Linked DNA regions of Homo sapiens. The protein of the gene in region 2 purifies or fractionates together with the protein of the main gene of each other region. This does not show direct contact. Each region holds a gene or a part of one and is shown on either strand. Other genes may lie near its edges.

Region 1 (3,822 bases), on a different chromosome or scaffold from region 2:
ACAGTGAAACCCCGTCTCTAATAAAAATTCAAAAATTAGCCAGGCGTCATGGCAGGCACCTGTAATCCCAGCTACTCGGGAGGCTGAGGCAGGACAATCGCTTGAAGCCGGGAGACGGAGGCTGCAGGGAGCTGAGATTGCACCACTGCATTCCAGCCTGGGCAACAGATTTGAGACTACATCTCAAAAAAAAAAAAAGAAGATTAAAACTGTATGTGCTTATACTGAATGGAACTGAATTTAAGAAAAACATGCTTTCACAGCTGTTCTGATCCATTTCTTCTCAACAGTGTATTAAAAATATACATTCTAAATCTTGCTTTAATGATATGCTTGTCTCATACATAATATGAACTGTAGTTTACAATATTTCATAAGACACTGAAAAGTCTAAATGCCTTATTTATGAAGATATAATAGATGGTAAAGTTTAATGTGTATTATAAAAGCAAGATTTTATCACTCTCGGCCTTCTGGTTAAGATCAAGTATATAAAAGCAAGATTATCAAAATAATAATTAACTCAAGAAAAATCTAGAAAAGCTTAGCAAAAATGTATATATAGCTCTTAAGGAAAAAATTAACTCACGTTACACCAGGATGAAGATTATATTTCTTCTTTCCAAATCGTGTTTGCTGAGCAAAGAAATCATAACGTTCAGATTTTTTCCACATGTAATAGAATGCTACACATTCACCAACTGACCTTGTTCGGACCTGTAAGAAACAAATGCTTGCTTTTAAGAATCTCCTTTTTAACAAAGTTACTTCATGATAAACATCTGAAGTTTGAAAATAAATTTGGCTAGTCCTTAACTGAAATATAATCCTATATATAACATACAACAGTGTAGCAGCTATGTTGAAAGCTATTCTTTCTAAACATCTATTAAGAGAAATAATATATTGGCAACAGGTCTTCAGATATACAGCACTGTGCTTTTTAAAATGCTACCATCATCCTAATTTACTAGAAAAATATATTCCTGTATTAAAAATGCTTGGAAGTTGGCCGGGCACGGTGGCTCACGCCTGTAATCCCAGCACTTTGGGAGGCCAAGGGGGGTGGATCACGAGGTCAGGAGTTCAAGACCAGCCTGGCCAAGATGGTGAAACCCCATCTCTACTAAAAATACAAAAATTAGCCGGGCATGGTGGCAGGTGCCTGTAATCCCAGCTACTCGGGAGGCTGAGGCAGGAGAATCACTTGAACCCCAGCAGGGGGTGGGGGTGGGGGCAGAGGCTGCATTAAGCTGAGATCACACCACTGCACTCCCACCTGGGTGACAGAATGAGACTCAGTCTCACACACACACACACAAAAAAAAGGCCTGGAAGTGGCATTCATGTTAAAATAAATGTTATAAACAGTTTGCTAATACTTTTACTCACAGAGTACGGGTACCTAGGGAGCGTATCTTTAAATTCCCTTTTGAAAGATTCTCTTACTAGTCCCAACAGCAACCCAGACTCAGTTAATTTACTCTCTAGAAAGTCTGGGAAGATGCCACAGTGAGTTAAAAGTATCATAATAATGCTAATGCTTTGTTTACTAAGTTACTCTTGCGGCTTACTGTGCTGTACCTATTTGTGCAACTGAATGGCTCCCCTCACATAATGTTAAATGCCTACGGAATTAAATGATGCTGACAGAATTCCTTTTTGTTACTTAGCCGGGAGAACTGGTGGTAGGGTTGATGTATATATATAAAATACTGAGGATTTAGGGCTGATGTATATAAATAAAATACTGATAACTTTTTTCCTTTCTTTTTCTTTTTTTTTTGAGATAGTGTCATGCTCTGTTGCCCAGGCTGGAGTACAGTGGCACCAAACCGCTAACTGCAGCCTTGCCCTCCCAGGCTCAAGCAATCCTCCTGCCTCAGCACCCTCAATAACTGGGACCACAATTGCATGCCACCAAACTCAGGTAATTTTTCTATTTTTTGTAGAGATGGGGTTTTGCCATGTTGCCTAGGCTGTTCTTGAACTCCCAGGCTCAAGCAATCTGCATGCTTCAACCTCCCAAAGTACTGAGATAACAGGCATGAGCCACTGCACCGGCAATACTGACCATTTAAAAGGAAATCCAGTGTCTGTATGTGTTCTGGATGCAATATACTTCTTTATCCCATAAATTTCTGCTCTTGAAGTAAATATTCTGTAGCACTGATTGCACCTAAAGGACAAATGTTGATGATACCCTCCCTTACCCAACATATATTTTGCTTTCTTCCCGTTTGCACTGTACAGCTCTGATCCATATTGCTCTGAGACTGACAGCAATCAGGACTTTAAAAAAAATCATCCTCTCAAGCTGTTTTTTGTCTCCTCTAGGATCTTATTTCTAGATAGATTCGAACTAAGTCAACTGTACTTTACTGAAAGCAAAAAGATAAAGTCATTTTGGGGCATGCAAAGTTAAGATTATGAAAAATCTTCAACAAAAGCCCTCAAAATAGAACTTATGATTAAGATCTGAACTTTAATTCCAGACATAAAAACAAACTCGATATTCTCACTAGAGTACTCGTCTCCCTTTTAAAGAATTACTGTCCTCTTTTTGTGCACTAGAGTAATTTAGTGTATTATGTAGAGGTCAGCTGACTTCTACCTTGTAACATTTAAATGCCACTGTCCCAAATATTTATGAGAAATCAAGGTTATACTTTTAATACTTATGTTACTTGGCTCTAAGTTTCAAGTCACCTATAATTTCTTAACTCCTTTAAAAAAATCATATTGGTCAGGGTTGTTGCTGCTGCTTGTTACATAAGCTATCATTCCAGGGGTCCCTTCCTTAGGTAATTCAGCATGGTTTGGTTAAGAGTGTTTTAATTCAAGCAGAAGTGTTAAAAAACAACAACAACAACAACAAAAAAAAAACCTCATCCAAAAATGTTGTCCCTTTCAACCATGAAACAACGAACTTTTTTCTTTTTTAATCAAAAACATACACGGCCAGTCACATAATGCACTCCTTTTCTTGAATGTTAACTATATTTGAGGTTATCAGATGATATGAACACAACATTAGGGGTATACATTTTTGAAACTAATTACATTGTCTTCTAAGTTATCCTAAATGCTAAAACTAAACATTTCTCTATTAGTGTTATCTGCGGTAAACTGCCAACATTCAACAAAATAATTAAGAATGAACTAATTGGGAGTGGGGCTCTTCACTGCCCAGTTCCCACTTAAAAAAAAAATAATAAAAATAAGAATAAACTAGTTAATGCACGACAAAATTTAAGAAATGAACCCACAGGATTTGTAAATATTTTATTAATAACAAAAAATATTAAATATGTGTCAAAAAAATCAACTGGATACAATCCAATCACATCCAAATGTATAAAAAGAGAGCTGTGGCAGAAGACTATTCAGAGCCTCAGACATAAGCCCAGGTACTTTCAACAAGGTCCTGGACAAGCTACGACACAAAACTTAGAAGCTATCTTTAAGGAATTACATAAACCAATACCCTTGTCATTTCTACTAACTAAAAATAATGTGATAATCATAAGCCTGGGAATTAATTTCCTACATTTAATCTCCAAGACTTTAATTCTGCCTGTCCTAATCTGTTGTCCTAATGTGTTGCTCATGGAAACAACACATTTTTCTATTCTATATAATTATATGGTTACTATTAAAAATCATACCTAATTTCAGTTATAAGAATTAAGCCCCAAAACAAATCTGTAAGTAATTATAAAGCTATTTGGAGTATAAATTACATGACTGATATTATCAACATGAAATGATAAATGATTATGTTAAATAAAATCCTCAAATTATAACTATAAGAATATAAAG
Region 2 (3,822 bases):
TGTCAGGCCTGTGTTGTTGTTATAGCCTCCCTTTCCCTCCTGCTTCCTTTGGCCCTTCTGATCCAGTCTGTATGCAGCTACCAGGTCATTCTTCCTAAAACACCCCTTCCCGGTGTCACTCCCTTTCTCACAGACTTGCAATGGCTCCCCGTTCCCTGCAGTCTGACCCTAGACAGTGTCCCCTCCAGCTCTTCCCTAGCCATACCATGCACATTTTTTCTTCCTGCATCTTCACTGCTGCCGCTCCCCTTCCTTTACTCCCACTTGAATCCCACTTGTCCTTAGTCTGGTTGTTGCTCAGACCACTCCAGGCCAACATAGTCATCCCCGCCTGAGCTCATGACTCTGGATTTTCTAACGTGGTATCCTCTTGAGTGGTTTTGTAGGTTGGAAATTTCTTAAGGACAGGAACAATATGAGTGTTAAACCTCTGTGTGTGTGTGTGTGTGTGTGAATATTCTGGTATTTCTTGTACAGTGCTGTGCACATCATTTTTGTTGAGTGAATAAATGTGGTTGGTTGCTGAGTTAGGCAGGAACAAGGGGGAGACCTTCCTTTCAGCTTCTCCAGAAATGCTCATATTGGAGTCCTTGGAGATTTCCAGCCCTTTCTGTCAAAGGCATATGGATAGGGCATGTTTGGGGTGCTGTAAATGGGAAATTTAACTGCTGTTTCTAATATTTCTGCTGGTGAAGAGTCCTATGGATTGCTTATGTGATACCATATAGACATTGGAAAAGGGCTGTAATCCTGTTTTCCTCCTACCTCACCGGACCACCATTCTTTCTACCCAGCTTTGCTGCTCTTATGCAGTTTTCCTTGTTGTTCATGCTAAATGAATCCATGTTTTATCTCTTCTCAAACCGGGTGCAAATGAGGGAGAAAACACAATTCTGAGCACAGAAAAGAAAAATACTCCTGGGTCTGGCCCATAGATGGGACTTTTGGGGCTGGTTTGGAAGAGGTGTTTATGGGGGCATCACCAACATAAGAGGCACAATCAGCCCCACATTGGACCCCTCATAAAGGAAAGCTACAATCCCTGCTCTCTCAGGCTTCTGTTTTGGTTCACCATCAACCCTGGACCATGGGGGAAACGGGAAAGAGGACTGGTGACTGGTTAGAGGCCAGATAGTGAAAAAATATATTCTGCATCCATCCCCTTTCCCCCAAACCTCCCTTTTGTGCCCCAGTTTGATGATTAATGGACCAGCATTTCCCTTCTACGCGGGAAGGCCACCCCTCACAGTTGCCATGGCAATGCAGACCGCTCCCCCGTCAATTAAAAAAAAAATCCCTACTACTTCTCTCCTCCTTCTACTGTAGCAGGAGAAAAGCTACCTCAGAATGCATCTCCTGGGCTCTCTTCTCAGCTCCTTTAGCTGTGTTTGCTGTGTGTCCTAGAACACAGTCCTTCCTCTCTTTCTGGGGATTGCCTGAGTTTCTTCACTCTGAGCAAATTGTGCCCCTTCTGGAGCCAGCAGCCCCTGGAACACTTATATCAAGAAACAGAGAAAATTTCTGTTTATTTATTCATCCCCGGTGCAAATTAAAAACTAGAGAGAGCTCCTTTTGGGTAAAAAAAAAAAAAAAAAAAACAACCCTTTCACACCTTCTCTGGTTAGAGGTATAAGTTGGGGCACATTTGACATCCAGAAAGGAAGTTTTAGTAAACCTGGAAGGAATTCAGCCTCCTAGCATACATACTTCAAATTGGAGTTCTATGGGGAATTCTCAAAATTATTTTCATTCCTCCTCACCTCTCTGTTCCAGCATCCAGGAGGACTTGTGTGTTTTCATTTTATCTGTTCTTATTCCTCTTGGCCTTGCTCCGGCAACATCTGGCCTCAGCACCCTGTCGCAAGGTGAGTCATTAAGGAGAATAAAAACCTTAAGGAAAAAAAGTCTCTGGAGTTGAGAAGTAGCCTGTGTTGAACTAAGGCTGCCAGGCGAAGCTGCCGAGTTTATGGAGCATTATACGAACAGCCCCGACATTAAAGGGCCTCCTTTTTATGAATGGGTTGTGAAGAATGTAAATAAAGCAGCATCTCTCAATGGGGAAGCATTTTACATAAGCAGTACTACCCCGACCCAAGTATTTATGGGAATTTGCTAGCACAGTCTGGCAAGGCTCACTTCCTTTGTGAACTTGCCATTGTGCTGGGGACTTTGGAGGGACAAGGAGAGTGTGCTTCGGTTCTGAGGGCAGCCCCAGCACTCCCACTCTGCAGGTTTCCTGGCGTTGACTTGATGGGCCAGCTCATGGCTGGAAATGCCTGTTAACCCTGAAGTGACAGAAAATACCATGCGCAGTCAAGAGCTCATGATAATTAGAGATAGAGGCTCCTGATCCTGGGGTCTGGAGATGGTGTAGCTCCTGACCCCTCAGGCTGCTTAGACCTCCACAGGACAGAGGACAGGGAGTTCTTGGATGATGAAATCTTGCCCGGTTTTATGGGAGGCACCTAAGTGGTGTAAAATGGGCTGGTTTGAATTTCAGCTCCTTTATGTTCCCCTGCCCACCTCCTGGTACTGCCACTAATGATCAGTAAAATGGCTAAAAAGGAGGAGGAGAAAGAGCACCAGCAGCAGTGAGGCTGCACGTGGTCTGCTCAGGGCCAGACGGCCTGACAAGCACCCTCACTGAACACCGGCCCAGCCCTGGGGTTCCAACAGGGGTGTTGGTGTCCTGCCCCAGGTGACTTGGTAAGCAGGCCCTGGAGTACAGTCACATCCAGGACTTTGTGTTGTGTCCCTGTGGGTGGGAGTGGGGTCATCAGATTTCATTTTTCCCAGTGGGAAACACCTGCAAGGATGGTTATTCACTTGACTCAGTGTCCCCCCAACACAAAAAAATAACATTGTCTTTTAAGATCCTCTGCAGGCCCAATCCACCAGGAGAAAAAAAGGGGTTTGTCTCTCAGCCTCGCTGATTTGAATTGGGAACTTATTTCTAAGCACTATGACCAAGTTAGCTGAATGAAAAAAAACAGGTGATTTCTTAGTCTTGTTACCAATGTCAGGCAGGAACTTGGGTCTCAATATTTTTTCTTGCATGTGTTCCTTTTCCAGTGGGTTTGGGGAAAAGAGGTGCTTTGACCTCCTGTCTTTGGGTAAGGAGGATGGGACCTGTCTTTCTGCCGTTCTCTTGACCCCAGGGATCTCACCTGGAGTGCTGTTGATGGCTCCTACTTTTATTCCATCTCCAATGCCTTTTGGGGACTCCTAGCCTCCATCAGTGCAGCTTTTTCAGCTTCCTGCGTGCAGTGGAGAGGGGCAGCCCACACAGACCCTTTTCCAACTCTGGTTACCTGTCCACAATGTTTAGGAATAATTGTTAATCACATTCTCATGTGGCCAGGTGGTTTAAAGGTGAATTACTGTTTTTTAGAGGACCTATGTAGAAATCGTGGGAAAGGTATTATTAGGGTGCCGCTTGATGCCAGGAGATCCTAACAAGTATGCCAGAAGGAGGGGTGAAGTCACGTTTCCACCATAGTCAGGGCCAGCAGGGCCTTCCTCAGTAGTGAGGGGTGTCTCCTGCTTTGTGCCTGGAGGGGTTTCCACATTGGCTAGAATGTAAAAAAGAATTATAAAAATGATTGAGGCCAGGTGCCGTGGCTCACACCTTTAATCCCAGCACTTTGGGAGGCTGAGGCGGGTGGATCACTTGAGGTCAGGAGTTCAAGACCACCCTGGCCAACATGCTGAAACCCCGTCTCTACTAAAAATACAAAAATGAGCCGGGTCTGGTAGCATACACCTGTAATTCCAGCTACTCAGGAGGCTGAGACAGGAGAATTGTTTGAACCCAGGAGACAG

Evidence for each region.
Region 1: the proteins of BAHD1 (region 2) and MIER1 purify together in Homo sapiens (co-immunoprecipitation; one large-scale study listed by IntAct). This does not show direct contact.

What each region holds. Positions count from the first base shown.
Region 1 is NC_000001.11:66,973,490-66,977,311, reverse strand, and holds part of MIER1 (mesoderm induction early response protein 1), read right to left. Parts: exon of another isoform or gene 1,794-3,822; intron 718-1,793; coding exon 590-717; intron 1-589. UniProt on the Homo sapiens protein: Transcriptional repressor regulating the expression of a number of genes including SP1 target genes. Probably functions through recruitment of HDAC1 a histone deacetylase involved in chromatin silencing.
Region 2 is NC_000015.10:40,443,679-40,447,500, forward strand, and holds part of BAHD1 (bromo adjacent homology domain-containing 1 protein), read left to right. Parts: exon of another isoform or gene 1-1,723; coding exon of another isoform or gene 1,724-1,865; intron 1,866-3,822.